4 linked regions of the Homo sapiens genome follow. The protein of the gene in region 3 interacts with the protein of the main gene of each other region in a pairwise test. Each region holds a gene or a part of one and is shown on either strand. Other genes may lie near its edges.

What was found.
Region 1: the proteins of LONRF1 (region 3) and GABPB2 interact in binary tests that used the Homo sapiens proteins (3 or more experiments, as listed by UniProt).
Region 2: the proteins of LONRF1 (region 3) and ALAS1 interact in binary tests that used the Homo sapiens proteins (3 or more experiments, as listed by UniProt).
Region 4: the proteins of LONRF1 (region 3) and KCTD21 interact in binary tests that used the Homo sapiens proteins (3 or more experiments, as listed by UniProt).

The regions. Positions count from the first base shown.
Region 1 is NC_000001.11:151,115,463-151,123,084, reverse strand, and holds part of GABPB2 (GA-binding protein subunit beta-2), read right to left. Parts: intron 5,694-7,622; coding exon 5,569-5,693; intron 5,129-5,568; coding exon 4,829-5,128; 3' UTR 1-4,828. UniProt on the Homo sapiens protein: May function as transcription factor capable of interacting with purine rich repeats (GA repeats).
Region 2 is NC_000003.12:52,193,127-52,201,441, reverse strand, and holds the start of ALAS1 (5-aminolevulinate synthase, non-specific, mitochondrial isoform 1 precursor), read right to left. Parts: upstream 3,283-8,315; 5' UTR 3,187-3,282; intron 2,771-3,186; 5' UTR 2,624-2,770; coding exon of another isoform or gene 2,594-2,623; intron 2,233-2,593; 5' UTR 2,222-2,232; coding exon of another isoform or gene 2,201-2,221; coding exon 2,002-2,200; intron 1-2,001.
Region 3 is NC_000008.11:12,744,905-12,752,526, forward strand, and holds part of LONRF1 (LON peptidase N-terminal domain and RING finger protein 1), read right to left. Parts: intron 1-7,622.
Region 4 is NC_000011.10:78,185,542-78,193,126, forward strand, and holds the start of KCTD21 (BTB/POZ domain-containing protein KCTD21), read right to left. Parts: upstream 3,086-7,585; 5' UTR 3,032-3,085; exon of another isoform or gene 2,983-3,031; intron 1-2,982. UniProt on the Homo sapiens protein: Probable substrate-specific adapter of a BCR (BTB-CUL3-RBX1) E3 ubiquitin-protein ligase complex mediating the ubiquitination and subsequent proteasomal degradation of target proteins. Promotes the ubiquitination of HDAC1.

The sequences.
Region 1 (7,622 bases), on a different chromosome or scaffold from region 3:
CCAACTTCCATGACTAATCCAGAAAGATATGCAAAGTCATGAAATGGTATTGCCATTAATGTATTCAATATTTAATTTCTAACTACTTCAAAGCATCCTCACCTGCCATTCTCTCCATGGCAATACAATTGGAGATCAAATCCTATTTCCCTTATCTGGGATGCCAAGAGGACCGTTCCGAGTAAATAAAAATCAATGCCTTTTTCTTACTTATTTTCAGATACCTCCATTCTCTCCCTCTCTACCCTAGCCTCTCCTCTAACAAACTGCCCTATCTCAGAGACCCATCATAAAAAATGACTTGGCCTGTATTAGAGATTTTGGGGGTTGGGGAGGTAGGAATGATAGCTTCTGCAGAAAGAACAATAAGATCTGCTAAAGAATTCCCCCAAAAAAGTGGTGACTGTATAGTCAGAAGGGCATGTTGGATGGACATTCTCTGCCTTTAGTCAGTAGCCACCCCAGAGAGTGAGCTGGTTGGGCCTGAATATCATCTGCAGAGTTAACCTCCTTCCCCTTAATGGGCGAGGTGTGGGGGAAGAGGGATTAAAGTCAACATATGCACCGAGAACATAAATAAAAGATATCTAAAATGATACTTGGTTCCTCTATCGTTAAAGTAAGGCTCCGAAATCCCACACATAACAGCTTCTTGTTAGCACCTGGTTCCCAAAGGGACTCAGAAAAAATAAAAACATTGCAAACAGGAAAAGATTATTTGACAGCAGATAGAACAATTTCATCATCACCCTTACCTAGGCTACTCCCCCTCACATTTTCCTGTCATCCCCAACAGCCCAGAATATTCTCCAATCATCTGGGAAGTGTTAAGTACTCAGATCTGTGGAGAAAACAGATCTGTGGAGAAAACCTAGCTAAGGTGGCCAGTAGCCAAGGTTAATTTCCAAACTGATATTTTTGCCTATAAATCTCTAATAACCAATTCTGTTTGTTAAATTTGGTTTGGGGAGTTAAATTTTCAGTCTATTTTGAGACCCAAGTGATTCTGCTCCTCTGTAACACTGCAGCAAATTACTTCACTAATCAAGGTAAACAGAACCATGTTAACTGTCAGGTTTTTTCCAAATTAAAAATGCATGTTTTCCCCATGACTGCTAATTAAGAAAACCATATTCTAAACAGTCATTCGAATGTTTACTTGGCACATCTCCCTCTGGTTTCTTCTAATTTATAACAAAGCAAGCAAGTCTAGAATGATGAGGGCCCAGTTTCAAAGGCAATAACCTCTGTAACATAACCTGTTCATAACCTCTCTCTCTCCATCCATATTCCCTTTCTTTGGGAAAAACTCCATGCTGACATACAAAGAAAACCCAGCAGGTAGGTGGTCAGGCGCAGTGGCTCACGCCTATAATCCCAGCACTTTGGGAGGTCGAGACAGGTGGATCACCTGAGGTCAGGAGTTCAAGACCAGCCCGACTAACATGGAGAAACCCCATCTCTACTAAAAATACAAAATTAGCCAGGCATTGTGGCGCATGCCTGTAGTCCCAGCTACTCGGGAGGCTGAGGCAGGAGAATCACTTGAACCCAGGAGGTAGAGGTTGCGGTGAGCCAAGATCACGCCATTGCACTCCAGCCTGGGCAACAAGAGTGAAACTCCGTCTCAAAAAAAAAAAGAAAAAGAAAAAGAAAACCCAGCAGTTAAACACTTTCCAAAAGTGTCTGGGCAGAGGAAGTGTAGGCATAGTGGGAGAGAAAGGAAGAAGACAAAGTAGCCAGAATCTTTGGTTCTTTATGGCACTGACAGTTCTTATTCCCTTTGTCAACACACACTGAGCACCCTATAAGGCACAAAGCTCTGTAACAGACCCAAGCTTAAGGAAACAGAGCAATTTACTCATGCCAGATCAAAAGGAAATAAAACTAAACAACATCATCAGCATTTACCTCCGACCCCCTTTTTGTTGCACATAAGAGGATAAGATATAAGCTCCACAGAAAAGCACAATATGTCCTAAATGACACTTAGAAAATTCAACAAAGTTTTATAAAATTAGAGTCTAGGCTGTGCGCGGGGTGGCTCACGCCTGTAATCTCAGCATTTTGGGAGGCCAAGGCGGGTGGATCACCTGAGGCCAGGAGTTCCAGACCAGCCTGACCAACATAGAGAAACCCTGTCTCTACTGAATATACAAAATTAGCCGGGCGTGGTGGCGCGTGCCTGTAATCCCAGCTACTCGGGAGGCTGAGGCAGGAGAATAGCTTGAAACCGGGAGGTGGAAGTTGCGGTGAGTTGAGATCACACCATTGCACTCCAGCCTGGGCAACAAGAGCAAGACTCCGTCTCAAAAAAAAAAAAAAAAAAAAGAGAGACTGAGCTTGACATTACATAAATGTTTGGAAACAAGTTTTTCTGACAAGAGACTACCCTCCTCACTGTAATTTTATGAAATCCAGTCAGAGCAAAGTTTATATGTCAAGACCAGAGTTTCATAGCCCCTATAAGCCTTTTTCTGGCCACTTCCCAGCACTGTGGAAACACAGCCTGGATTTTGGTTTTATATATACTCCTCCCACATAAACAAGTTTTCTTTCTTTTCTATTTTTTTTTTAATTGAGTTTCACTCTTGTTGCCCAGGTTGGAGTGCAATGGTGCCATCTCGGCTCATTGCAACTGCCGCCTCCCGGGTTCAAGCGATTCTCCTGCCTCAGCCTCCTGAGTAGCTGGGATTACAGGCATGTGCCACCACACCCAGCTAATTTTGTTTTGTTTTGTTTGTTTGAGACAGAGTCTCACTCTATCGCCCAGGCTGGAGTGCAGTGGCATGATCTTGGATCACTGCAACCTCTGTCACCTGGGTTCAAGTGATTCTACCGCCTCAGCCTCCCGAGTAGCTGGGATTCCAGGTGCCTGCCACCTCGCCAGGTGAATTTTTGTATTTTTAGTAGGGTTTCACCATCTCGGCCAGGCTGGTCTTGAACTCCTGACCTCATGATCCACCCACCTCAGCCTCCCAAAGTGCTGGGATTACAGGCATGAGCTGCCGGGTCTGGCCCTAATTTTGTATTTTTAGTAGAGACAGGGTTTCTCCATGTTGGTCAGGCTGGTCTGGAACTCCTGGCCTCAGGTGATCCGCTCGCCTCGGCTTTCCAGTTCAGTTTTTAAAAACTCTATTTCAATTTCCTTTTTTTTTTTTTTTGAGACAGAGTCTGGCTCTGTTGCCCAGGCTGGAGTGTAATGGTGCGATCTCAGCTCACTGCAACCTCCGCCTCCCGGGTTCAAGCGATTCTCCTGCCTCAGCCTCCCAAGTAGCTGGGATTACAGGCAGGTGCCACCACGCCCGGCTAATTTTTTGTATTTTTGTTTGTTTGTTTTGTTTTTTTGAGACAGAGTCTCACTGTGTCGCCAGGCTGGAGTGCAGTGGCACGATCTTGGCTCACTGCAACCTCCACCTCCCAGGTTCAAGCAATTCTCCTGCCTCAGCCTCCCAAGTAACTGGGACTACAGGCGTGTGCCACTATGCCTGGGTAATTTTTGTATTTTTAGTAGAGACGGGGTGTCACCATGTTGGCCAGGATGATCTTAATCTCTTGACCTTGTGATCCGCCTGCCTCTGCCTCCGAAAGTGCTGGGATTACAGGCGTGAGCCGCTGCGCCCGGCCAATTTTTTGTATTTTTAGTAGAGATGGAGTTTCACCGTGTTAGCCAGGATGTTCTTGATCTGACCTCGTGATCCGCCCGCCTCGGCCTCCCAAAGTGTTGGGATTACAGGCGTGAGCCACCACGCCTGGCCTAGTTTCCTTTTTCCTTTGAGATACAGTCTTGCTCTGTCACTCAAGCCTGGAGAGCAGTGGTGCAACCATGGCTCACTGCAGTTTTGACCTCCAAGGCACAAGCGATCCTCCCACCTCAGCCTCCTGAGTAGCTGGAACCATAGGTGCCTGTCACCATACTTGGCTAATTTTTAAATTTTTTGTAGACACAGGTTTCTATGTTGCCCAGGCGCATCTCAAACTCCTGGACTCAAGCAATTCTCCCATTTCAACGTCCCAAAGTGTTGGGATTACAGGTGTGAGCCACCACACGCAGCTTATTTCAGTTTCTTACACAAGCATCTGAACTATAGACACATAATGGATAAGTATCTGTCAGACAATCAAAAATTTCTTCTCAGTGATGTGGTGGCATATGCCTGTCCTCCCAGCTACTCAGGAGGCTGCGCCCTGGAGGCGGAGGTTGCAGTGAGCCAAGATTGCACCACTGTACTCTAGCCTGGGTGACAGAGTCAGACCGTGTCTCAAAAAAAAAAAAAAAAAGGGAAAATTCTCTTCAGTGAAATTAACTTAAGGTTGGGAGTTCCTGCTCCTTTGGAAATGGACTATATTCCTTTTCTCTTCCCCAAAGCTTGTCTAACTTCCCTTCCAATTGGTTTTTCCAACAGATACGCATCATAAATCTAAGGGGCATTTTCAGGTCACTTGATGGTATAATTATTAAAGGCATATATATTGGTGCATATATATTAGAAATGTTATCTTAAAATCTTTTGTGAGAAAGTCAGTTATTTAAAAAAAAAAAATCAACCCACAACATGCAGTATTCTTTTACTTCTATGTTTAAAGCAATGATATGAGCTAAGAAATTTGGTCCTTTATTCTTTTGGCCCCTCAGAAAAAATGTTCCCTAAATATGGCTTTGAATTTTCTAGTTGCACAGAGAAACTTCCTGAGCCCAAGCATTGTACCCTGCTATAGTTTTCTTCTTAAAGACACTCTTAGTTTTTATACAATGTTTGTCTTCTGTATATTTCCTTTTTTAAAAGAGGATTAATATGAACACAGTGCAAATTGTGGCCCTTGCATATTAAGATGAAACAGTTGCCATGGAAACTCTAGTGTGAGGCTCTGTGGTCCCTGCTGACCCAGTCACTTTTGTCTCTCTCTCTTCCAACTCCCCCTCTGTGACTACTACAGCATCTACCTCAGCCACCTCTTCAACCATGGTGAAATCAACTCCATTGGGCTGCTGTCGGGCTATGGCCTCCAGCTTAAGACGGTACTGTTCTGCTTCCTGCTCTTTCTTTAGGAGCTGGTGTCGGTATTCCTGGGCTCTTCGATTGGCCTCCTGGAGTTGTTGCTGTAGTAGCTCTCTTTCATTGCCTTCCTGTAAAAGTAAGCCATGTCACCACCAGGTAAATTCCTGATCATAAATTATCCAGACAGTAGACAAAAAGACAGGCCAGGAGCGGTGCCTCACACCTATAATCCAAGCACTTTGGGAGGCAGAGGTAGGCAGATTATCTGAGGTCAAGAGTTCGAGACCAACTTGGCCAACATGGCAAAACCCTGTCTCTACTAAAAATACAAAAATTAGCCAGGCATGGTGGCAGGTGCCTGTAATCCCAGCTACTCAGGAGGCTGAGGCATGAGAATCACTTGAGCCCGGGAGGCGGAGGTTGCAGTGAGCTGAGATCATGCCACTGTACTCCAGCCTGGGCAACACAGCAAGACTCCGTCTCAAAAAGAAAAAAGAAAAGATGAAGAAGGGTTCAGGCCTTAATAATTAAGGCTTTAAATTCTTTTCATCACTCCTAAAAACATTACCTTGCTTTCCTCCACACTGTTTGTCTTCTCTCCTATCCTTGGTTTCTTTGTTAGTGGCAACTTCTCTTCTTCTTCCTCTTTAATTACAGTCTCCTCTGCAACCTTACCAGCAGGTACAGTTAGAACTACAAGTCAAAGGACACCAATTGGAGGTGATGAATGCATAATAAAACAAAGAGGTTTTGCTTGCTTTTAATTAGAAAATAAACTAAAATATATTCTAGGTTGGGTACAGTGGTGTGTGCCTGTGGTCCTAGCTACTCAGGCAGCTGACTGGAGGACTTCTTGAATCCAGGAGTTCAAGACTAGCCTAGACAACACAGCAAGACCCCATCTCAACAAAAAAGCAAAGAAAGAGAAAGTAAAATATATTCCTTGATATATTATTTTTAATATCTCTTTGAATTTTCGAATCAACAGGTAAGGCATGGCCCTTCAGGGAGAAACAAAAAGGATTAATAGAGCACTGAGAATGGCTCAAAAAGGAAGGGTATAGATTTGCAGGCTTGGAAGCCATGCAAGTAAGTCCCAAGTCTGAAGCTCTTATATGAAGGTGTCTGACTCTAGGTCACCTATGGCCAATTAGCTTATCAATCCGCCCAGAAATGGCAGGGCAAGGTGGCTCACACCTATAATTCTAGCATGTTGGGAGGCTAAGGTGGGAGGATCACTTGAGCCCAGGAGTTCAAGACCAGCTTGGGCAACATGGCAAACACTGTCTCCGCAAAAAAAATACAAAAAATTAGCCAGGCATGGTGGAGCATGCCTGTAATTCCAGCTACTTGGGAGGCTGAAGTGGGAGGATCACCTGAGCCTGGGAAGTTGAGGCCGTAGTGAGCCAAGAACTCGCGACTGCACTCCAGCCTGGGTGACAGAATGAGACCCTGTCTTAAAACAAACAAACAAACAAAAAAAACTGCAGAAATAATCTGTCAAAAGAAGGCCTGAAGTCTTTATATATTTTTGAGACCTCTAATAAAAGCCAATAGCCATTATCTGTACCTAAATTAATTCTCTTCTCATAGATAAGTGAGAGAAGAGTCAACACACACACAACACACATGACACACTACACATCTGTCAGAATGGCTAAAAGTTGTTTTTTTTTTTTTTTTGAGATGGAATTTTGCTCTCGTTGCCCAGACTGGAGTGCAATGGCGTGATCTCTGGAGTGCAATGGCTAACTGCAACCTCCGCTTCCCAGGTTCAAGTGATCTCCTGCCTCAGCCTCCCAAATAGCTGGGATTACAGGCATGCCCCACTACACCCGGCTAATTCTGTATTTTTAGTAGAGACAGGGTTTCTCCGTGTTGGTCAGTCTGGTCTCAAACTCCCGACCTCACGTGATCCACCTGCCTTGGCCTCCCAAAGTGCTGGGATTACAGGCGTGAGCTACCACACCCGGCCTTTTTTTATCGAGAAGTCTCACTCTGTAACCTAGGCTGGAGTGCAGTGGCACAATCTCAGCTCACTGCAACCCCCACCTCCTGGGTTCAAGCAATTCTCCTGCCTCAGCCTCCTGAGTAGCTGGGACTACAGGTGCATGCCATCACACACAGTTAATTTTTGTATTTTTAATAGAGATGAGGTTTCTCCATGTTAGCCAGACTGGTCTCAAACTCCTGACCTCAGATATTCCACCTGCCTTGGCCTCCCAAAGTACTGGGATTACAAGTGTGAGCCACTGTGCCGGGCTAAAAGTTTTTTAAAAAGTGATGATACCAAATGCTGGAGAGGATGTAGACATACTGGATTATTCATAAATTGCTGGTGGGAATGTAAAATGGTACAGCCGCTCTAGAAAATAGTTTGGCAGGATGGGCGCAGTGGCTCATGCCCTGTAATCCCAGCACTTTGGGGGGTCGAGGCAGGCAGACTGCCTGAGCTCAGGAGTTTGAGACCAGCCTGGCCAACATGGTGAAACCCCATCTCTACAAAAAATACAAAAATCAGCCGGGTGTGGTGGCACCTGCCTGTAATCCCAGCTACTCGGGAGGCTGAGGCAGGACAATCACTTGAACCTGGTATGCGGAGGTTGCTGTTAGCTGAGATAG
Region 2 (8,315 bases), on a different chromosome or scaffold from region 3:
GACAAAGAGGCTTGCTGTTGCTTAACATAAAAGCTATTGGTTTTCATCTAAACAACAGAAATTAGACTAAGACTTAGGTCTTTAGATTGCTAATAAAGTAAGAAAAAATAGGGGTATATCACATTCACATACCTCATCTACTTTCTCATCTAAATTCATCAAAGTCTGCTGACTAAACACCGTTGGCTGGTAATTATCCTTCTAGCTACAGTGACTTCCCTCTCCCCTTGAGCAAATTCATTCACCTTCTTTCTAGAAAAGTCTTTCTTCATCATTCTGGAACACTCCTGTGAGTCACTGGCTAGCCTTTCCTATAACTTGGGTAAAGTGTCTCAATACAGTTTTCATTAAAATCTTCTATAACGGAAGGCCAAAAAAATTATTTTGAAGTTAATTTCATTTATTATAAAAGTAATACATATTCATTAAAGTCTAGAAAAAGAAAAAAATCCTATCATTTAAAACATAGCCATTGCAAGCATTTTGGTAAAAAAGACGTAACTAACTCTTGAAAATAAACCCTACAAAGGATTAAATCCTTTCTGCTTAAAGAAAAAAAAAACTTATTTTCTTACAAGCCCACACCCAGAGAACACGCCTAAGAAAAACCTGTAAAATATTCTCTGGGATTAAGTGGAACCTGAAAAGCTTTGTTCTCTCCTATCAGAAGCAGAGCAAACTAAATTCAACTCTAGTCTCTTTGTTAAAAACAACAACAACAAATGTATATACAAATAAAGATACATGGCATGATCTCAGCTCACTGCAACCTCTACCTCCCGGGTTCAAGCAATTCTCATGCCTCAGCCTCCCAAATAGCTGGGATTACAGGCGTACACCACCACATCCAGCTAATTTTGTATTTTTTGTAACAGTGGGGTTTCACCATGTGGCCAGGCTGGTCTCGAACTCCTGGCCTCAGGTGATCAAACCACCTCGGCCTCCCAAAGCGCTGGGATTACAGGAGTGAGCCACTGCACACAGCCAAGATAAATTTGTTTTTAAAAATCACTAATAAATACTGTACAATTTCACTTATATGAGGTACCTAGAATAGTCAAATTCATAGAGACAGAAAGCAGAATGGTGGTTGTCAGGGGTTGGGGAGAGAGGAATGGAGAGTTACTGTTTGATGGGTATAGAATTTCAGTTTGGGAAGATGAAAAAAGTTCTGGAGATGGATGGTGGTGGTGACACAACAATATGAATGTACCACTGAACTGCACATTTTTAAGTGCTTAAAATGGTAATTTTTCTTGGGCATTTTACCACAACAGAACAAAAACTTTTAAGAAAAAAAAAATCACTACTTTAAAAAGCCAAAGGGGCCGGGCACGGTGGCTCACGCCTGCAATCCCAGCACTCTGGGAGGCTGAGGCAGGTGGATCATTTGAGGTCAGGAGTTTGAGACCAGCCGGACCAACAAGGTGAAACCCTACTAAAAGTACAAAAATTATCTGGGCGTGGTGGTGCATGCCTGTAATTCCAGATACTTGGAAGGCTGAGGCAGGAGAATCACTTGAACCTGGGAGGTGGAGGTTGCAGTAAGCCGAGACTGCATCACTGCACTCCAACCTGGGCGACAGAGCAAGACTCAGTCTCAAAAAAGAAAAATTAAATAAATAAAAAGCCGAAGGCCAAATGTTTAATGAGGGAAATTAGAAGGCTAAATGTTTAATGAGGGAAATTAGAACATTCCAATTTAATATTTATGTGAACGAGGCACTGAGGAAACACTAAAACCCCTATAGACACTAACGTGCAATCCAAAAACCTGTAATGTGCAACACTGGCCACTGTTTCACCTTTAAAGATGGAAAAGCTAAAAGTGCCTACCCTTGGGGGGACAATCATATGAGATAATCTGTGCTCAGAGCCCAGCCTGCACATAGCAGCCCTCTGTGAGTGAGTGTGACCCTCACCACCACTGTGGGGACTGCTTCTAGTCTACCAATGAGCACAAACACCCATACCTGCTCCTTCATTGTCAATGACACTTACTCTCACTGGCCGGAGGGGTTTCTTTGATCTGTTGGTAGTGTACTGCTGCAGTGGACAATGCCCGAGGGGCTGGCTTGGCCCCAACTTCCATCATCTTGGGGCAGTTTTGGGCATAGAACAACAGAGATTTGCCTGCTTTCTGCAGAAAGGCCTGGGGGACTCGGGATAAGAATGGGCAGCGGCGAACAACACTCTCCATGTTCAGGAAGTATGCTGGCTCCTGTGGAAAGACTGATGAAGAGTGACATCAACAGTTGTTAATAATCAGGCAAATATCACTGCAAGCTCACTGGATTCAGGTGTCAACCGCAGTTTATATAAAGGGTACCCTGGAATACTAACACTTCTCCCTCAAAAATGCCTAAGGACAGCACTGATGTGAGCTAAGGAATGGTGACCACACTTTACCCGGGTCACCAACTTCTTCATTCTCCAGCGCTACACAAAGGCACCTGCAAAGCAACTTCACCAAATGAATACTGACAGTACATAATCAAGGGGGCGGAAGGATGAGGGAAAGGTCAAGAACAGGTTTGGGAGGCCAGAGGTTTCTTAGGGAGATGCACAGTGCAGATAAGACATCTTGGCTTACATCTAGGTGGAGAAGAAGCCACTCATCCATCCAGGCAGGGAAGACTCTTAGGGATCCTGACTTTCTCCTGGTCCCCACATCCCCTAAACCCGAGGAAGGGGTCCAGCAGGGTCCCGAGTCCCTGAAGCAAGGATTCCTCCGTGGTCGTGTCCCCACAGCGGGAAGAACTGGGCATAACTGAGAAAGGAGGGGCACAAATGAGGGTAGGGGTATGAGGGCCAGCGCCTTGGGCCTCACTGGGGACGCGCAGGGGCTTATAAAGTCGAGGGAGTTGAGTCTGGAGAAAGAAGGCAGTCCTCCGGCAGTGGGGGTCAGAGGTGACCCGCGGTCGAGGTCTCGAGAATGACGGGAGGGGTATGAGAAGGGAATTCTAAAGCGGCGGGTTCAACCGGGAATAGCCGGAAGGGGCCGAAAGGGGGAAACTGAGGCGGCCGTCTAGGCAAAAGATCTGGAGGATAAACGCTGACCTCAAGGCGGCGGGTGACTGGGACAGTGGGGGATGGGGTCCCAGCACCCGGGGCAGCGGTGCCACGGCTGGCAGGACACCCCGGGGCTTCCTCGGCCGGCGCCGCACCTACCGCGCGGGCCCTCACCTGCGCTGAGGACTGCAGAGGCGGCGGCGAAGGAGGCGGGCACTCAAGTCGAGAAGTCCAAACGAAACGCTCGTTGCCCTTGTCCGGGAGCAGCCTCAGGCCGCGATCGCCGGCGCCTTAATATACAGCGGGAGTGACCGCTGCGCATGCGCCTTGGGCGCTGCCTTCTTCTGCGCAGGCGCGCCGCGTAGCCCTCGGCGAGCCGGGGGGGCGGGGCAGAGAGGCCCACTTCTTGGGCTCTGCGGATATCGGTGCTGCCGGGGATTCCCCGGCTCGCCTGCAGGGAGGAGGAAGCGCTAGGCGGTGGGCGGACGAGGTCTCTTTTCCCGACCTCATCCTGCACCCTCGTGCTGCCTCCCCACCAACTACCCTGGGCTTCAGAACCCTACGCCCCAATTGAGTATAAAATGGCAAGGTCGAGGCGAGGTGCCGCTAGGGCCAAGTTGGGGGCTACAGGGTTGTTAAGCTGGGTGTCTTGGACATGGAGGAAGAAGGAGATCCAAGGGGTTCTGGGCCGGGGTGTTAAGCAGGATCCATCCCGCCTGCGGCTTGCTTTGGAAACTGTGAACAAGGGCTTCCCGGAGGAGGTGGAGCTGGCTATATCGCCCACAAATGGAGTGGTCCTGGCAGGATGCGGAAGAAGCGGGACACTCAGCTGTGGCACTTTCTGGTCTAAGATGATCCAGAGGGGACAGAGGAACAGGGCTAGGGTGGAACCCATCCACTCCACAGCTCTGAGCACTTGGGGAGGAGGGGAAGGCACAGGGCCTGACAATAGTTAGCGTGTAACAAATATTAGCCACTATTTTTATTTTCCATCCAGGGTTGTCTGAAGCCCCTTGCTGGCCACCCTGGGCACCAGCAGGGTGGCTTAGGCCTCCATGCCAAAGGTCAGCGTTGGGCCATACCTCCATTGAGTTTCCCGGGTACAACACATAAAGTGTAGGGCTTGGCAAACCCGTCTCAGGAATGTCAGTCTGGCTTCCTTGCCCCACACCCTTCCCAGCTTGGCTTGGGCTGTGTTGGGCTGGGCCTGTGCCAGGCTCAGAGGTACTCTCCTCCATTCTTGAGGAAAGGGCCTTTGAGGGTATTCCTTTCCCAGCTGAGCATTAACAAGAGGGACAAAGTCCAGAATGATGGTGACCAGGGTGTGTCCAGGTACTTTGCATTTCTGTCTCTGAGCACCCAGCTGGCTGCAAGGCAGGTGAGGTGAGTCTCCACCTTCAGAGGAGGCACCTGGGTTCAGAGTGGCAGTGGGACCAGTCCAGGATGAGGGCTTTGGTCTGAGAGCTCGAGACCCAGTTCTGTGCCATTCAGCCAAGAGATCCTGGGCAGTGCCCATCACCCAGAGAAGATGAGAGAGAAAAGGTCAGCACTTGGACTTGGACCCAAGTGCAGCTGGAAGTGGGAACAGAATAAGGATGATATTGAGTGCTTTGCTCATCTTTGGGCCTTGCTTTCCTTATCTGGGCAATAGGATCATAATCCCTGAAATGCCTGCCTCACAGGTTGTTTTTGTTGTTGTTGTTATTTTGTTTGTTTGTTTGAGACAGAGTCTCCCTCTGTTGCCCAGGCCGGAGTGCAGTGGCACAATCTCGGCTCACTGCAACCTCTGCCTCCCAGGTTCAAGCGATTCTTCTGCCTCAGCCTCCTGAGCAGCTGGGATTACACCACCACGCCCAGCTAATTTTTGTATTTTTAGTAGAGATGGGGTTTCACCATGATGGCCAGGCTGGTCTTGAACTCCTGACCTCAAGTGATCACCCTCAGCTTCCCAAAGTTCTGGGATTATAGGCTTGAGCCACTGCGCCTGGCCCTCATAGGGTTTTTTTGGGGGTGATCAGAGCCAAAGCCAAAGCAGAAAGAACTGGATAGTGGAGTTGGGCATGGGTTTCAAACCCAGCTCTGAATCTTACTTGGCCATAGACTTGGGCAGGCCACAACCTCTTCAAGGCTTGGTTTCCTGATTTGTAAAGCTCTCCCGCCCTGCCACTTGTGGCTGGCAGGAGGGTCAGGTGAAGTCCTGTATTTCAGAGGCTTATTGTTTAAACCAGCCAGTCCCTAGCCCTCTGGGAGTTTCCTGTTTAATATAGAGAAAGATTGGGAAACAAGGCCGACTCACATGGAAAGTGAAATAGAGTGTTGTAAGCAACTCCAGATGGAGGAAGAGGAGGAGGCTATTACTCCAACAGGCGCTGAAAGAGGAGGATCCCAACCACGAGGAAGGCTTCCAGAAGAGAAGCGGGTGCTGGTTGGAAGGGTGGATCTACATGCGACTGGGAGACTGTGGGTGAAGCCTTGGATGGAAAAGGCTCAGCCCTGTGGGGGTGGCGGTTGGGGGGTCAGCGTGAGTCAGCCCAAATAGCTGGGCAACGGGAGTATGGTCAGGACCTGACGCCAAGAGGTCAGACCAGAAAGGCCCTAAATGAGCCACGGGGTTTCCCAGTGTCAGGGCCCAAAGAACCACCCCCAGGGTACCGGTCAAAATGCAGATTCCTGTGCCACACACCTTTGATTTTGACCCAGAAATCTGCATTTTAACCAGCTCCCCTTTCTGATGAGGTAAGGGTGAGGTATCTTGGAATATGTTTCTTGAGTGGTTCAAGGTTTGAGACCTTGAAGAGCAAGGCATAAGCCATGAGTTCTAGTCCTAACTCTGAGATCTTGAGCAAATTGCCTCATGCCTTAAATCTTAGTTTTTGTGTCTGTGAAATGAGAATGACCCCATCTGCCTCAGTGATGAGTCTGGGTGGGCACTATTCTGCTCCAGTTGTGATCCTTCGGGGCCTCTTCTTCTCCCCTCCGCCCCCTCCTCCTCTTCTTCTTTCTTTTTCTTCTTTTCCTTCTCCTTCTTCGCCTCTCACTCCTCCCTTGTCCTTCCCTCCTTCCCCATCTTCTTTTCCCTTTCTCTCCCTTTTTCTCTCTCCCTTACCCCTCCCTCCCTTTTCCCTCCTTCCCTCCTTCTCCCTCCCTCCCTTCCTTCTCAGAGCTACAGTATAAACTCATCTTATCACTCGCTCTGGCCCTGGGCAGCTGGAGTTGAGGCAAGGTCAGGCCCCATCCCAGGGATGACGCTGGGGACTTTTTTCCCTCCCACCCAGTCTGCATCATGGTCATCATTACCATCACTATCACCGTCCGGGGCTGCTGCACATAGTACCCACCCAATGGTCAAGGCAAAAGGAAAATGTCAACCCCAGCCCCTAGAATTCCCCCTTTTTATTCTGGGCCCCAGGAACTATTTTTATTTTTATTTTTATTTTTTCTCCCTTAAATAGCTGTTTATTAGCAATGTGCTAGAAAGGGTGATGGAGTTAGCATTCACAGACAACACACACCGCTGTCACGAGGGAGGCAAGCGCGCGGGCAAGCCAGCCTGGAGCCCCGAAGAGGAGTCCCCCTCTTCAAGAGAGCGTGGGAGGGGATGGGGCCTGGGGTGTTGGGGGGCAGCCTGGGAACACCTCCGCTTACTAGGCATGGTTAAAGATGAAGAGGGACTCACTGGCAGCAGCCCCAGCCTGACCGCTTGGAGTATACTTTCCTTGACAGGCGTGGCTATCTGCCAGGGCTCACTTGACATACTCCTTCTGCACAGCCTTCAGGTTCTCCTTCTTCCTGCCCCAGGCCTTCAGGGCAGAGGCCTGCAGGGCTCAGCTATATGAGAAGGTCAGGCCCCAGGGCTTCAGGAGGGGGCACTTGTTAATGGCATTGAGGTTGATGGACACTTCCTTGCTCTGGCCTCCAGACAGGAAGGTGATCCCAGGGACAGTGGGGGACACTGTGCAGTGCAGCACTTAGTTTTTGTGTCTGTGAAGTGAGAATGACCCCACCTGCCTCAGTGATGAGTCTGGGTGGGCCCTGTTCTGGCCCAGTTGTGATCCTTCTAGGCCGCTTATTCCCCAGAGTGTAGTGCTTGTGACAGTTGCCATGGCAATCTCCTCATGAGAAAACTTCTGGATGCAGGCATGGCCTGGGGTGACCATATTGGACTTCAGCAAGGTGCCTTCCAGGTAGATGTCATGGTCACTCAGAGCCTTGTAGAGCAGCCACACCTTCTCGGTTACATACTGGCAGTACTACAAGTCATGGTCCCCACTGGGGAGGATCCTCAGGCTCCACGATGAGCACAATGCCATTCTGCTGGCAGATGCTGGCATAGTGGGCCAGGACATTGACACACTAGCATTTTCTCTTTCTTTTCTTTCTTTCTTTCTTTCTTTCTTTCTTTCTTTCTTTCTTTCTTTCTTTCTTTCTTTCTTTCTTTCTTTCTTTTTCTTTCTTTTCTTTCTTTTTCTTTCAAGACGGCGTCTCACTCTGTCACCCAGGCTGGAGTGCAGTGGTGCAATCTCAGCTCATGCGACCTCTGTCTCCCAGGTTCAAGCGATTCTCCTGCCTCAGCCTCCCAAGTAGCTGGGACTACAGGTGTGTGCCACCACGCCTAGCTCATTTTTGTGTTTTTAGTAGAGATGGGATTTCACCATGTTGGCCAGGCTGGTCTCGAACTCCTGACCTCAGATGATCCACCTACCTCAGCCTCCCAGAGTGCTGGGATTACAGGCGTGAGCCACCGCGCCCAGCTGATGTTGGCATTTTCAATGATGGTGAGGGCTGAGGGGGTGTGTTTCCCAATCTTCAGCACATGATGCCACTTGGCAAAGTGGGCTCCATCCTTCTTGTATGGGGCACAGCGCTCAGACAGCCCATCCAGCCCTTGGGTGGTGGTCTCACCATTTGCCCTTTCCAGGGGTACCACCCCCTTGTCTACCTTGATGCTCACAACATTGCCCTTGGATTTGATAACTTGGGGGAAGGGACGCCCATCATCCGCCTTTTGGTACAGCGTCTCATGGAAGAGGATGACACCCTTGATGCAGGGGTTCACGCGGTTGTCAGCTGTCAGCCACAGCTGGCGGTAGAAGCACCGGTTCTCCTCGGTATTCTCGGTGCCAATGGACTGCAGCCACTTGGCAGTGCTCCCAGTGGACTCATCTGCAGCCGGGATGCCCTTGCCCAGAGCTACGATGCGATGAGTCATGTCAGACAGCTCCTTCTGCTCCGGGGTCAGCAATGGATATTGGTAGGGCATGGTACTGGTGTTAGCAAGTTCTAGCACAGGAGAGGGGTGGGTT
Region 3 (7,622 bases):
CATCAAGTTCTCACTCCTTTATATTTGATGACATGCACGTTCAGAACTGCTGAATATTTCCCCTTTTATCCATGCCTTCACTGCTCAATCACCTTTATACAGTTTCTTTACGGCAGCAGTGAAAGAAGTGACTCAGAAGACCCGTCTTTGAAAAAACAAACTATAAAATGTATCCACTCTGACCAAAGCAAAAAAAGACATATTCCTTCCCCTCTCCACACAGAAAAATTCGGGATATTGAGATCTCCCTAAAGGAGGTCCTAAAAAGTCAGTATATGTTGGGGTAAGAAGAGAAGATGCACGCCCTAAGTAGAGATAAAAAGAGCCAGATTTTAAAACTCTTTGTTCCCTAACTCCTTGTATGTAATGCTCTTATTGAAAATGTTAACCGATTATTTTGAATGATTATTTTTTTGGAAAAAAAAAAAAAAAAAAAAAAAACCAACCCCATCAGGTGAGTTCAAACTTCCAATACTTTTAAAAAAAGATTAGGACCATCACACTGATCTCAAATTCTTAAGCGCCAAGTGCGCTAAATGAGCCCCTTTGAAAAGCATACACAAGGTCTGCCTTCCACGTAAACTTTCAAGAAAGACAACAAAATGGCTATCAGTCCTGACTGTATCATTAACTTAAGTTTGAAAGAGTCAACAAGTATTTACTGTATGCTCTCTACGTGACCTTGAGGACACTACAGACGAGTCACCTCACTGCACACGCCATCAGGGAAGATGCTGGTGCTCACTCCATTACTGCAGGTATCTGTATTGCCCAGCAAGTGCCTGGCATATTATGTATTTTCCATTTTTGAAATCGACAAAATTTCAAAAGTTGTCAAAATTTTGACAACATTGACAAAATCCAAAGACAACATGGTTTGGGTTAATTGTATTGAATATGACTGTGGTACTTAACTCTGTGACCTTATTCTAAATCACTTAATATCTCTGGTCTTGTACCCATATCTACCAGAAGCAGGGACAGATGTGCTAGTTGTCATGATTTAACTCCCTGATCTTTATCTTTAGTCCTGATTTTTCACCCTAACTTCAGATTCATCAAATTTCCAACTGCCTGCCATAATTTTTCTAAACTCAGCATTCTTCACCAAAAAAGCATTTTTCATTGTATTCTCTATTATTGACACCACTAACTTCCCAAATCAGAATCAACTTTGTAAATGTCACCTCCTATGATATTCCTCAAATCTCCCCTTTTCCAATCCTATCTCTAGTAATCCTGGGTTAGGCTCCCCAAATCTCTAATACTATTGCAATAGCTTGCTCACTGATCTCCCTGCCTTCAGTTCTACTCTACCTATATCCTTACCATTCACAAGGTAAAACAGGTATTATTTAGTACAAGTTCCTCCATGCCTGGCTCCTGCCCATCTCTCCAGCCTTAATTATCATTATGAACCTTCCCACTCACTCAAAGTCCCAACCATACCTAACTACCCACACTGCCCCATGTACACCATTCTATTTCATGCCTCATTCCTGTGCTGAGCTCCTCCCTTACCATACCATTCTTTATCTTGATAAGTTTTTATCATCCAGCAAGACAGCTCACCAGTCTCCTCCCAAGATGCTTTGCTTTGGGTCTTCCTCCACAATTTATGATAACCACTAAGAGCATGATCTGGCTCTTCCACCCACTCACTGTGACTTGGGGTAAATTACAAGTAATCTCTGTACTTTAATTTCCTTAGCTTTAATATTCCGGGGCTTTTAAAACATTATTAACACCACTATGTGCTGTTCTAAATGATTTACAATCTTCAGCACAATTCTACATGGATCTAGGATTGTCCACATTTTTATAGAAAACAGTGAAGAGTATATGCAGCTTGCCCATGATCATACAGCTAGTAATTGGTGGATTCGAGATTCTAACTCAGGAAGCCAGCTCCAGAGTTCTAGCTGTTTACCTCCATGCTATTAATATGTTGGTAACAGTCTCTACCCCAAGGCTTACTCTAGAGAGTAAGTTAATCGGTGCATAGTACTTAGAACAGGGCTTGGTACATTGAAAGCATGGCGTGTTTGCTATTATGATTCTGTGCCTTCATCGTATATATACATTATTTATTAAAGTAATTTAATTCAAAGATGTTTGAACTCCCTCCGTTATTTCCTGCCTTTTATCCTCAGATCCTGGCTTTGATAAATGTTTCCTGAATTAGAAAAAATTCATTAAAATTTGATTCCTTAAGCTCAATTCATGTTCCCATTTTCTCCTTTTATACCCAGTATTATTTGTAAGTCATTCAGCAAGGAAAAAGATTTAAATAAGACTCTGCTCCACCATCTGAGGAATCTAGTCTTCGGCTGTCCAAAGCATTTATTTCATGGGTTGAAGAGAGAGTTTTCTATTCTAGAGTCATGGTTTTCTATCTTTGTTCCAATCATTAGAGATCCATGGTTAGTAACAGGTCTTAAAGTTGTTTCTTTAGTTCACCTTCAAGAAAGTTTTTTTCAAATCACAAAAGCTTAAAAAATGTTTACTCATACAATTTGAAAAATATAGAAATAAGAGGTAAAAACTATCTTTTACCCATCACAAAGAAATAGCCAGTGTTGGTGTTAACAAAAGAAAAAATTAGCACAAATTTAAGGTTCGAATTGACTTTTATTTGTGATTCTAGGAATGGGCAACAGCTCATTCTATAAAATGGGTCTTCTAATGAGCTAAGCAGAGGAGGTTAGCCTTCTAGGCAGAAAAGGTTTAAAGAAAGCAGAAATAAGGGACAAAAAGTAGATTGGTTGTTTTAAAGTTGAAAACTTTCTTTACAGGTTAAAACAGAGAGGGCTGTCTTATTTCACTAACTCAGGTTGACTGAAATCTCTCTCTTTTTTTTTTTTTTTTTTAGAAAACTGGCTCATTTCAGTTCAAATTCAAAGTTCAGTTTGATTATGTGGCACTCAGCACAAGGGCCTCCATTCTAATTCTGTCTGGTCTGCTGGTGCCTAGTGCAGGTCAGTCTAAAACAAACGGCCTCCCATACATTTTTGTTCTTTATGTGTAAAGTACATTTTTAACATGTAGTTTTATAAAATATACTATATATGCTGTTTATAATCTGCTTTTTTTCCCATGTAATACTAGTCCACATGATTTTTAATAGTTGCAAAATATCCTACTATATATACAACCTATTTAAAAATTTCCTACTCTGCAATTAAGTTACTTCCAACTTTTGGCAGTATAAAAAGTATAACAAACGTCTATCTTTATGTACCTGCTTGCCTTTTTAGTTATTTGCTATACAGTATGTAGAAAGTTATTTATTGCTTGTACTTTATTTATTTGAGAAAAGATCTAAGATCTCACTCTGTAGCCCAGGCTGGAGTGCAGTGGCATTAACATGGCTCACCGCAGCCTCGACCTCCTATGCTCAATAGATACTCCAGCCTCAGTAGCTGGGACTCCAGGTGCATGCCTCCACACCTGGCTAATTTTTAAATTTTTTTGTACAGATACGGTACCACTATGTTGCCCAGGCTGGTCTCAAACTCTTGGGCTCAAGTGGTCCTCCCTCCTTGGCCTCCCAAAGTTTTGGCATTATATGCATGAGCCACCATGCTGGGCCTAGAAAGTTATAAAGATATACAACATTTCCAACACATTCTGCCAACCCTTCTTTTATAAAGACTTTATTTTATACTCCCACAAGCTGTGTTTCTTCTCTTTGCTAGAAATACATAAATTAAAAATAGCATCGTAATTTTAACAACCTCCATTTCTTCATTAAGTTTGACCTTTAAAACTTTGTGTTTATTCAGTATTTGGGCTGTGTATAAAGTTCTCTATTCATATTCCTTTTCTCATTTTTCTGAGTGTCTTTTTCTGAGATTTATATATCAAGCTATCGAAATTTTCAAAGGCTAACCAGAATATCAATTTTTTTTTTTTGCTTCTATTGCTTCATTATGTTCAGTATAGTATGACTTGGTTACCAGGGTTGAGCTCAAAGCTGCCAAGTGATAAGCTGTTGATCATTGATTAAGAATGTTCAGGAGTAGGAGTTTGGGATAGTAAGATCATTAACACTAGATTCAGAAATTGGGTTCAGATCCCCTTTTGGTAGTTTAACTCTTTGAACTCTCCTGACCTATAATATGCTTACCTCTAAAACACCTACATTTTATAACTGCTGTGAGGATTGAATAAGATAATGCATGTTAAACAGTTAACACCAAACCTAAGACATACATGCTCCATCTATAATAATTGTTGATAACATTCCAAAATATCTCAAAACAAAGTGATGAAGATATTAGATTAACCCTTGATACAAGATACAGAAGAGTATTTTCTACCTTGTCTTTTACCCACATAAATGGTAGCCTAGATAAGAAACATCTTTAGGGATCAGGAGAGCAGACTGGACAACAGACAGCACAAAGGTGGGTCAAGGGGATGGGAAGCAAAAGACCTTACCAAAGGGAAAGAAAAAACCAAACAGAAGCTTCCATCTTGCATTTTAGAGTTCCCTGAAGTCATTCAACTTCAATAATAAAACAATTCCAATTTTGAGAAATACCTTTGGAAAGAGGCAGAACACTATACAAATTCATTTAAAATTTTACTCGAGATTTTCCAAGGCTCTTAGAAATATTCCAACAAACAGAAAAATGATTCTGAATAAACAAAAAGTTAATATATAAATAACTAGAAATCTAAGATAATTCAGTTTTGGTAAATTCTGCATTTGATGAATGAAAAACAGTTAAAAAACAAATTATTCATTTGAAATGGGACACTTGAATCAGTTTTTTTATCATTTATATCAAAAGCCATTACAGTTGATCTTTTTAGTAACCCTGAGGCACTAAGAAAAAAAATCCTTAAAGTACCTTATGAATCAAAGAAAATAATTAGAGATATAGTCTCGGTTAAGTAGAAGCCAATTAAGCAGTAAACCCCATTTTCTAGGGATTTTCAATTTGCTGCAATTACAAAAGAAACAAAAAATACAAACTCTACAAGGACAGGGACTTTATTTTACTCCTTTTTTATATTTCTAGCACCTAAAACAATGCCTGGTATATAGTAGCTACTCAATAAAAATTTGCTGAATAGTAAGAATATTTTAGATTTATGTTTTGCGTGCTAATTTTTAAATCAACTTTGTGTTTTGAATCAATATGCACATATTTGGGTTCTGCTTTCAGTTTTAACTTGGTCACTTACTTCCCTTAAGAAAGTCACCCAAAATTCTTGCAACTTTTCTTACATCTGTGAATTAGGGATATTAATACTTGCCCTCCTATCTCACATGAGTTTGTGTATGGATCAATTACGATAATAGAAATGAAAATAATTGTGAACTATAATCACCATACAGACATCAGTGTTTACTGTTTCAAGTCCTCTGCACAATAAGTAAGGACATAAATAAGTTAGCAAGAGCCTCCCTTTACCCAAGGGGGATACGTTCCAAGACTCCCACGGATGCCTGCAACTTCAGATAGTACCAAGCCCTATATATACTATCATACCTGTGATAAACTTTAATTTATAAATTAGGTGTAGTAAGACATTAGCAACAATAACTGATGATAAAATAGAACAATATAACAATATGCTGTGATAAAACGTACATGAAAGTGGTCTCTCAAAATATTTTATCATACTGTACCATGTGGGTAACTGAAACCACAAATAAGGGGAAACTACTGTATTGTTTAAATTCAAATTTCTTCATTTTAACCTAGTTGAGTTACTAAAGATAATAAAAACCCTCTACATTTTCTTTAAATGTATTCAGTATTTACCTATAATTTGACTGATCTTCTGATAGCTAAAGCTTTTAAGTATCTATAGTTTATTGATGAATGCTAAACTGCTAGTTAACATGTGTAAACTAAAATCGGGATGTAATTGTTACTCTCTACCAAGTGATAGAACAGAACAGGATGTAAAATTGCAAGGTTTAGATTCCACTTTCAGCAAAATCCCCTTCTAGCCGTAACACACTTCTACATTTTAAAAATATTGAATTAATATTTACTGGGCATTTACTCTGTGTCAGGCACTATTTAAAGCACTTAGCATGTTTTGACTCATTTGATTCTCACAACACCCTATGAGGTAGAGACTATTCTCATTTTTCAGATAAGGAAACCAAAACACAGATAGGTTAGGCAACGTGCACAAGGTCGGAGAGAGGCGAGGGCTGCGTCAGGATTGGAACCCAGGTGTCAGCTTCCAGCATGCAGAGCTTTAATCACTAAGCCACACTGCATGTCTATCCATAGATGCCTCAGTTTCCCTCTGAGGATAATATTACAGTACTCCATAGAATTCTCTGTGAAGATCAAATGATATTAATATAAATAATGTAAAAATACTGGGTAACAGTCAAGGATTATATTTTTATTTTTATGTTTTTTTTTTTTTTTTTTTTTTTTGAGACTGAGTCTTGCTCTGTTGCCCAGGCTGGATGGAGTGCAGTGGTGTGGTCTCAGCTAACTGCAACCTCCACTTTCCGGGTTCAAGCAATTCTGCCTCAGCCTCTGGAGTAGCGGGAACTACAGGCATGCACCACCACGCCTGGGTAATTTTTTGTATCTCTAGTAGATACGGGGTTTCACCATGTTGGCCAGGCTGGTCTCGAACTCCTGGCCTCATGCGATCCGCCCGCCTCGGTCTCCCAAAGTGCTGGGATTACAGGTTTGAGCCACCATGCCTGGTCAAGCATTACAGAATTAATATTAAAGACAAAATTTTCCTTACCCAAATATTTTAAAACAAAATATCACCCCCCCACCTTACAACCTTTTTTTTTTTTTTTAACCTGTACAAACTGTAAATTATACTGTTCTGTTGTCTTCCTCTGGGGGAGAGGTGAACACACGAAGGAGATAAGTCAGTGTAAAAAAACATTAAACACAAAAGGCAGGCAGCATGGCTTAGGGGGATCATTTCAGTAGGCTCAAGCACAGAGATTCAGTGCAGGAAAAACTTTACATAATATCCCTGAATACTAAAAAGACAGAAAGTTATGAAACATCTGAGAGTTAATACCAAAAGATCAATGGTTTAAATGTTATCTAAATATATTTCAATTCAACAGAAACTTATGTAATCTAAATGGGAAACTTCTGATTTTGGCAAAGGTTTTCAAGCTTTCTTTTGCTGCTGGCAGAGATAAGTTTGGATGTGTGTGGGCTAACTGCAGACTAGATTTTTTCTAGTTAATAGTATTTACTTGTTTCATTATAAGAATTATACGAAGAAATTATAGTGAAGATCTTTTTTCATTATCAACAATAATGACAAGATCATTAATAACTACAACCGTACAGTTATATAAATACATGTCAAATGCCTAGCTTGCCAATTCCAAAGAAGTTAAAGCCTAAGGATTGTACAAACAGCTTATGACTGTACTAGTTAACATTTTGATTTACACCCATAAATTGTGAGACACTTATAAATCGGCCCTTTACCAACTCTAATTTGTTAGCTCTGAGATTTTTTTCCTGTTAGTTCACATTAAGAATTCAAAAGATTAAAAAACTTATCCTCATTAGTGCCATTCAGACATTTTCAAGCATGGAATTAATGATTCTTGAAAGAACTAAAAATGAGGAAAAAATAAGCTAATGCAGTGA
Region 4 (7,585 bases), on a different chromosome or scaffold from region 3:
CTGGGTGGGCAGTCTGGATAGAGCCACCACCCACAGAAACCACACCACTAGGCCTATTTTTTTTTTTTGAGATAGAGTCTCGCTCTGTCACCCAGTTTGGAGTGCAGTGGCGTGATCCTGGCTCACTGCGACCTCTGCCTCCCAGGTTCAAGTGATTCTCCTGCCTCAGCCTCCTGAGTAGCTGGGATTTCAGGTGCGTGCCACCATGCCCGGCTAATTTTTGTATTTTTAGTAGAGACGGGGTTTCACCACGTTGGCCAGGCTGGTCTCAAGCTCCTGACCTCAAATGATCCACCCACCTCAGCCTCCCAAAGTGCTGGGATTACAGGCGTGAGCCACCGCGCCCGGCCAGGTCTGCCTATCTTCTGTGCTGTGATTCTGCCTGGAAGAAGATGGCTGTTCAGGCCTTGTTTTTCCTGCCTCATCATGAACCCAGAATCTCTGTAACTCGGCAGGAAAGAAACTCCTGTCATGACTCACTGTGAATGTTGACAAAGAGAGGCCACTCCTGGGCCTCAGAAATGTCAAGGATGGGCAGAAAGAACTGGAGACAGGCCAGGCTCAGTGGCTCATGCCTGTAATCCCAGCACTTGGAAGGCCCAGGTGGGAGGATCGCTTGAGTTCAGGAGTTTGAGACCACCTGGACAACATAATGAGACCTCGTTTCTATAGAGAAAAAAAAAAATTAGCTGGGCATGGTAACACGTGCTTGCAGTCCCAGCTGCACAGGCTGAGGTAGGAGGATCGCTTGAGCCTGGGAGGTCAGGCTGCAGCAAGCCGAGATCACGCCACTGCACTCCAGCTTGGGCAACAGAGTAAGACCCTGTCTCAAAAAAAAAAAAAAAAAAAAAAAAAAAAAAAAAAAAGAAAAGAACTGGAGAGGCTGTGTGGGGTAGGGGCAGACCATGCATGGTATTCGGCATTACCTGGGTTTGCATTTGAATCATCCCCTGCCACTTACTAGCTGTGCAGCCCTGGGCACGTTCCTGGGCAGATGATGATGATCATAACAACAACAAACACTACAACGGCAATAATAATGGCTAACGTTTATTGAGCAGTTACTACCGTGCTAGGCACTCTATACATGTTAATCTCTTTCAATCTCACAGATTAAGTAGATACTATTATATACCTACTTTACAGACCAACCATACTGGGCCCTCTTCGACTTCTGCAATTTGGCATCTGCCATCCCCTCTGCCTGGACCTTGAAGACAAATCCCATGCATCGGCCAGGTCTCTCAGCTGGAATTCATTCCTTCTCCTCTGCATCTGCGGAGAATTTTAGTCTAACCCCTTACCACAGCCAACTTTACTTAAGTAGATGGATGCCTGGCTCCCTTGCTGGGGCTGGGGGTGCCCCTTTCTATATCCACAGAAGCACGTAGAATAGGGGAAGAGGAAGAAATTTCTCTCCTGTTTAGTCAGATCCATTTTCCCCACCTGGATTTTCAAAACTTTTTAATTTTGAAATGCTCTGTTCAATTTTCAATCTGGAATCTAAAGGGATGTGACAAGGCCGAGGTGATTACTTGGGAGTAAATGCAAGGAGAGTTTCCACTGCGTAAGGGAATGGACAGCACGTGGCTGGGTAAATTTCAAAAAAGACAATGCTCAGAGTGAGTACTGTGTTTTCCAGTAAGTGGGAGACTTCCCCACCTTACCCCACCGGAGAAAGGACTCTTTGCCTTGAAGCCCCTAGGACGACTACCCTTTCTTCACCTCCTCTTCCTGACCACCCCACATCAAAGAGCTGCGTCTATAATTCTGTCTTGCCCAGTCCATATCTCTAAGAAATCCGAAGGCTGCTCTATTACCATCACAACCCATAGGGAGGAGAGAAAAGGTGCTTCCTAGACACAGGGACCCCAGAATGAGCTGCGCAAAAGGCAGGAGGAGAGAAAGGTGGGCTGGAAGAAGGAGACCACGGAATCTGGCACGGCAAGGTATTCTTTCATCTGGCGTAGACCTCCAACAACCACTACCATCCCCCAGCCCCTTCCAGAACTTTCCTTCACCTTCTCGGCTCACTCTCACGCTTCACCTTGTGCTTTTCCTCCGGCACCAGCACCCCATTTCAAACCGCTCTCTTCCTATGTCTCCTCCAAACAGTAATTTATAAACACCGTGCTTTCAAATCCATCTCATTTCATCCTCACAGTACTATAGGAGGGCTGCCTTACAGGCTGTCATTCGGAAGGGTTGGGGGGACTGGTCCTGCCAGACAATTTGCGAAGGTCGGGGCATCAAAACTTTTCTTTCCTGCCTCCCACGCCAAGCTAAACCTCTGCCTCCCCGAGTGCAGGGAGAAAAGCAAGGTCTTTGAAGTAAGGAGTCCTGAGTGGTTTTAGGCAAGTCCCTTCGCTTTTCTGAGCCTCACATTCCTCACCTGTCAACCGCTATAGTGACGCCTCTACTTTTCAGGGCGTGGGAGGTCAATGAGATCACTGGTGTGCCGCACTGAACTCGGGGATGGACTCTTTATTTCCAGTCAGTAAAGGGAGGTGTTCTATGCATCACAGGCTTTTGCCCACGCCGCCACAGCGCGGCCGGCCCAGGGCTCTCCAGAGCGGGGCAAGTTCCCTGTCATCTGTGTCTCCGCCCTTCCTTCCCCAATCTCACCCAGGCTGGCCTCATCGGCTTGTTCCGCACCCACTCCCCAGCCCTACAGCCCCCACTCCGACCTGACAAGTGCCCCACCCCCACCTAGAGATCCCGCCTCTCCTTGCCCCACCCACCAAGGACTCCTCCCACAGTCCCGACCCTCATTATCCGGGCTTTTCCGACTATCACCATCCGCCCTTGCTCTCCCAACAGCCCCGCCCCTCTAAGAGCTCTGCCCACTTCGGCTCACCTCGCTCCGAAACGCGCCCCCTCCCCCGCACCACAGGCGATGCCATCCCCATTTCACAGATGGGAATGGCGAGGCTGGGATAGATTAGTCTCATGGTAAGACAGGTGCTCAGTGGGCCCACGTACCCTCGCCGGTAGTCCCCGAGCCCCGCGACCCCGGCCGTGCCGCACCCACCTCCTGCCCTCGCTCTGCAGCCTCTCCCTCCGCGAGCGGCCAGCGCAGCTTTGCGAGGGGGGCGGAGGGTAGGAGCCCAGCCCAGGGGCGTGGCGGTCCGGGGTCTGTGCGCTGCCTTCCGGGACTGGTAGTTCTCTCTGGGCTCCTCGCAGCTCGGCGCGTCGAGAGCGAACTCCATCTCCCAGGAGGCATTGCAGCGAGTTGCTCTGCGCCCCGCCTCGTCCCCGCCGGTGTCCGGCCGGCTGGCCTTAAAGGGGACGCGGTCAGAGTGGCAGCTCGCGGGGTGGCCCCCGCTCCGGCTCCGCCCCATTTCACGCACCTCGCCCCTCCCCATGCTTCATCCCGCAGCCCCGGGGCCGCGCCGCAGAGTCGGGCTTCCTGGATACATAGAGGCTTGTGCCAGGCGGGGTGGGAAGACTGGATTTTGCAGTGGAAGCAGCATCTCTTCCGTCTGGGACCTGGCTGAGGGCGTCCCCACCCTGGGGGGAGCAGAGGACCAGCCCTGACCTAGCCGGGCCCAGCCTCGTCCTGCCCGGCCTGAGCGCCCCGCCCAGCAGCCGGCTCTGGCCCACCGGGGTCCGGGAGGTAAGGGGGTTGGGGGCGTGTGACTGTCTTTGGGGGGCGGTGTCTGCACCCTGGCCTTTCGAGAACCCTGGACTTGCGAGCCCAGGGCTGGGAGTCGGGAGATCTGGGTGCATCCTGGGCCTCCTGGGCCTCACTGTGTGACCTTGGGCGAGTAGCTATTCCTCTCTGGGCATTAATCCCCTCCCTTCATCAATTGTATGTCGAAGTGATCCTGCTCCCTCCCCTTTCAGGTAAGAGGGCATTCGCACCCAGTACCTAGTACATTCGCTTGCTGGCTTTTCGTGGGGCCCTCCAGCTCAAGCGTGGGCTGGGCGCGGGTGCACTGGAGGGAGGGAGGTGGCACAAACTGGGGGGCCCGAGGCCACCATTGCTTGGAATGGGCTTTTCCTATTCTCAGTGTGCTGGGCCCTGGGATACCCTCCCCAACCCCCTCTTACGGCCCTGGCCCTTGCAAACCGGAGACCCTGATGTGTCAGCTTGGTGCCCTTCCTTCCAGAAAGCTTGGGGTGGAGTGCGGCCCTCACAGGTTTGTGAGGGGTGGCCCCGCAGGGATAGGTGTGTGTGGTGGGTTCCTGAGGAGGAATAGCTGCTCCTGCTTTCTTCCCTTCTCTCTCCTCCTTATCCTTTGAGGAAGAGCAGCTGCTTTTTACCAGTGAAACCCTTTTTTCTTTTTCTTTCCAGGAGACAGTTTGGTGGCCCAGACATGGGCCTCCCGGAGTAGGGTGAAGCACTTCTTCCCAGGGTTGCCTTGGGTAGAAGTTCAGTTAAAAAATACCTAGAGAGATGCTGCCATTCAGACACCTGAGGGGCCAGAGATGGAGGGCACCACCTGGTGTCGGGAGGGGCAGCCTGGTACCCCCAAGGAAGCTCTGGCTCCCAGGGGAGTCAAAGGAGGGAGGCTGGCTTCGAGGGTCAGAGAGGGGAGGAAATGTGCTCCTCAGCTCTTAGGTGCTGAGCAGAGGCTGGGAGGGGCTGCTCTGACCTGGAGCAGGGAGAGGTTGAGTAACACCATGAAGCCTTCTTCTCAGGTCCTAGGAGATTCTGTGAGCTTTTGACCTGAAGGCTAACCAGGAACAGATTTTTGTTTTGTTTTGTTTTGTTTTTGTTTTGTGCTTTTTCTTTTGCTTTGGTTGTTTGAACAATTTCTAGAATGGCTAAAGCCTCAGTCCAGTCCAGTGACCTCTGTAGGGGCTTTCTTGACTGATGTTTAAGATTTTCAGGGTTTTTGATATGCAAGACCAGGCCTGGGCAAAGGAGGGGGTGGTGACTGGACCAAAGGTTAGGCCAGTTTCTGGAAGGTACTTTTGTGGTTACATCTTTGGTTTTCTCTCATCTTGCTGTCACATGTCTCTCATGAGTTGCTTGACGCACCTTCACGGACACCTCAGTCCTTGGTTCTGTACTGGGCACTGGGCTCAGAGACGGGGATTGGACCTCTGCCAAGGGAGGTCCCAGCCTGGTGGGAGACAGAGACATGGATTCCAGTTATGCTGCAGAGGGATGAGAATAGCTAAGAGGGCCTTGGAGGCCAGAACTTTAGACACTTGAATTGTGGAGGGAAAAGGAAAGGCTTCCCAGAGGAGAGGGCATGTGAGCTGGGCATTGAAGGGTGAGTCAGAATTTTCCAGGAGAGAAGAGGGAAAAGCCCTTTTTCAGTAGAGGGGACATTGTGCAAAGTAGCAGTCAGGAAAAAGCCCCCTGCTCCAATGTCTGCAGAGTCTCCACTGAACAATGTTGCTTGAGTTCATCTCCACCCCTGCCCCACATCAGCTGAGTGTCACAGAAAGGGCTTGCATGTCCGGCTCAGGAGTTTGGACCTTATTCTGGGTCCAAGGGGCTGGAGAGTGTTGAGAGTTCTGAGCAGGGGCATGGACGGAATGGTGCTTACCGTGTAATAAGCTCCATCTGACGATGCTGCATCTGGAGAGACCAAGGAGGGATGATGAAGCTTGAGCGGGGGCCCAGGGCGTGGCAGTGGGGCTGAGCATAGGAGTTGTGTACACACACATACACACACACACACAGGGTGCTTTGGGGTGATGGAGATAAGTCAGGCTCAACTGTGCAGGAGCAGAGATCAGTCAACACTCGGCAGAAATGTTGAGGGTCATCCGAGAGGAACAGGTGAAAGGATCTGGGCCTTTTGGCAGAGGGATTGGGATTTTCCTGAGTGCTCACTGCGTGCCTTGGAGTGTGCTGGTGTTGCTGGGACGCCCCTCAGGCTGTCATGCCAGTAGGGCGAGGGGTATGAGGCAAGGGCTTGGGAGGAGCAGCAGCGCTGGCTGGGAAAGGCTAAGGGGTGGGCACGTAGTCACCTTCTATTTGGGCATTCCGAGGATCACAGAGGTAAAAGAACACCTACCTCCATGGTGGCTGGGCTAGACTCGAAGCCTGGACTCTGTTCTCCTCTAGGACACATGCCTCTGTTGGAGGATGGATTGAGGGAGGGAATTGGGAGATGGGTTAGGAGGCTACTGCACTAGTCCAGGCAAGAAGTCAAGGGGTCTGATCCTGGGTGGGGCTGGGAACACCGAAGTGGCAGGGAGGGCTAATGGAGGAAATGCCTTGGAGAATCAGCAGGATCAGCAGTGCGTGTCTCCTTGTCTCCTTTCCCTGACAGTATCTGTGTCTCCCATCAGTGCCAGGTGGCCCAAAAATAGACTCATGACAGCCCGGCCCTCATCTTTTTTTTTTTTTTTTTTTTGAGACGGAGTCTTGCTCTGTCCCCCAGGCTGGAGTGCAGTGGCATGATCTCGGCTCACTGCAAGCTCCGCCTCCTGGGTTCACGCCATTCTCCTGCCTCAGCCTCCTGAGTAGCTGGGACTACAGGTGCCCGCCACCACGCCCGGCTAATTTTTTGTATTTTTAGTAGAGATGGGGTTTCACCGTGTTAATGAGGACCTCATCTTTTTTATACCTTGTCTCAACCCTGTGAATGGTAGGCTTGGAATAGTCCCCATTTTCCAGATGAGAAGGCTAAGAAGCCAGGCAGGGGCTCACCCAAGGTCACCATGACTTTGAAGCAGAAAACCTGTATCTTCAGCTTTTAACACAGGCTCTCCTCGGGGAGGACATGGCTGCTGTTTGCTGCTGCGGTTGGTGCGGGGCAGCTGTCTCTTGAGTCAGAGCCAGCATGGACAGGCCATCTCCTCACCCGGGGCTTAGCAGGCTAATCCAGCCCTCCTGAGGGAGGCAGAGTGCAGGTTCTAATCCTGCTTTGCCAAGGCCATGTTCCTCTCTCTGAGCCTCACTTTCTTCATTCCTGCCAGTGGGATAGCTGGCCTTGTCCTCCCTTCCCTGGCCTGATGGGGCCAGGTGAGGTGCAAGCCTCTAAAACCCTTTTGTCTGAGTGCATGCAAGATATTGAGTGGGTTTGCTGGTGACCATGGTGACAGCTGTCCTCAGACTGCCTGCGTGGGAGTTGGGGCAGGTGGGCAGGGCTTGCTTGCTGTGGCCAGGCTACGGACTGAGCAGAGGCTGCCGGCTGGCCTTGGAGATCAGAGCTCTCATGGAGCAGCTCTATTTGAACTGTCAGCTGCCAGGCTTATGTGGTGTTAGGTAGAACAACATGAAATTGCCAACATTTGATCATTCGGTTTCATGCGGTTCAGTCTAATAGCATTTGTCCCCATTTTACAGAAAAGAGGCTCATGGGTATGATTTACTGAGGGTCACACAATGAGTCAGGGCTAGAATGTAGGACTCCTCATTCCTAGTCTGATACTCTTTCTACTCTTTCTAGTACTCTTTCTACTACCAGAGTCTTCCCTGTCTCCAGAACTCCATTTCTGCCTGCCCCCATGCCCTCTTGCTTCACACATGATGCCAGTGCCTCATGGATTAGGGTTTCTTCTTGGCTGCCTGAGTACCAGGATTTCTTGGCATCCTGGGTTGAAAGCATATGAAATCCACTAGCCATCCCAGGGGTCTGGGAGGATGGACTGTTTGTGTGGGGGAGGTTGGCCACAG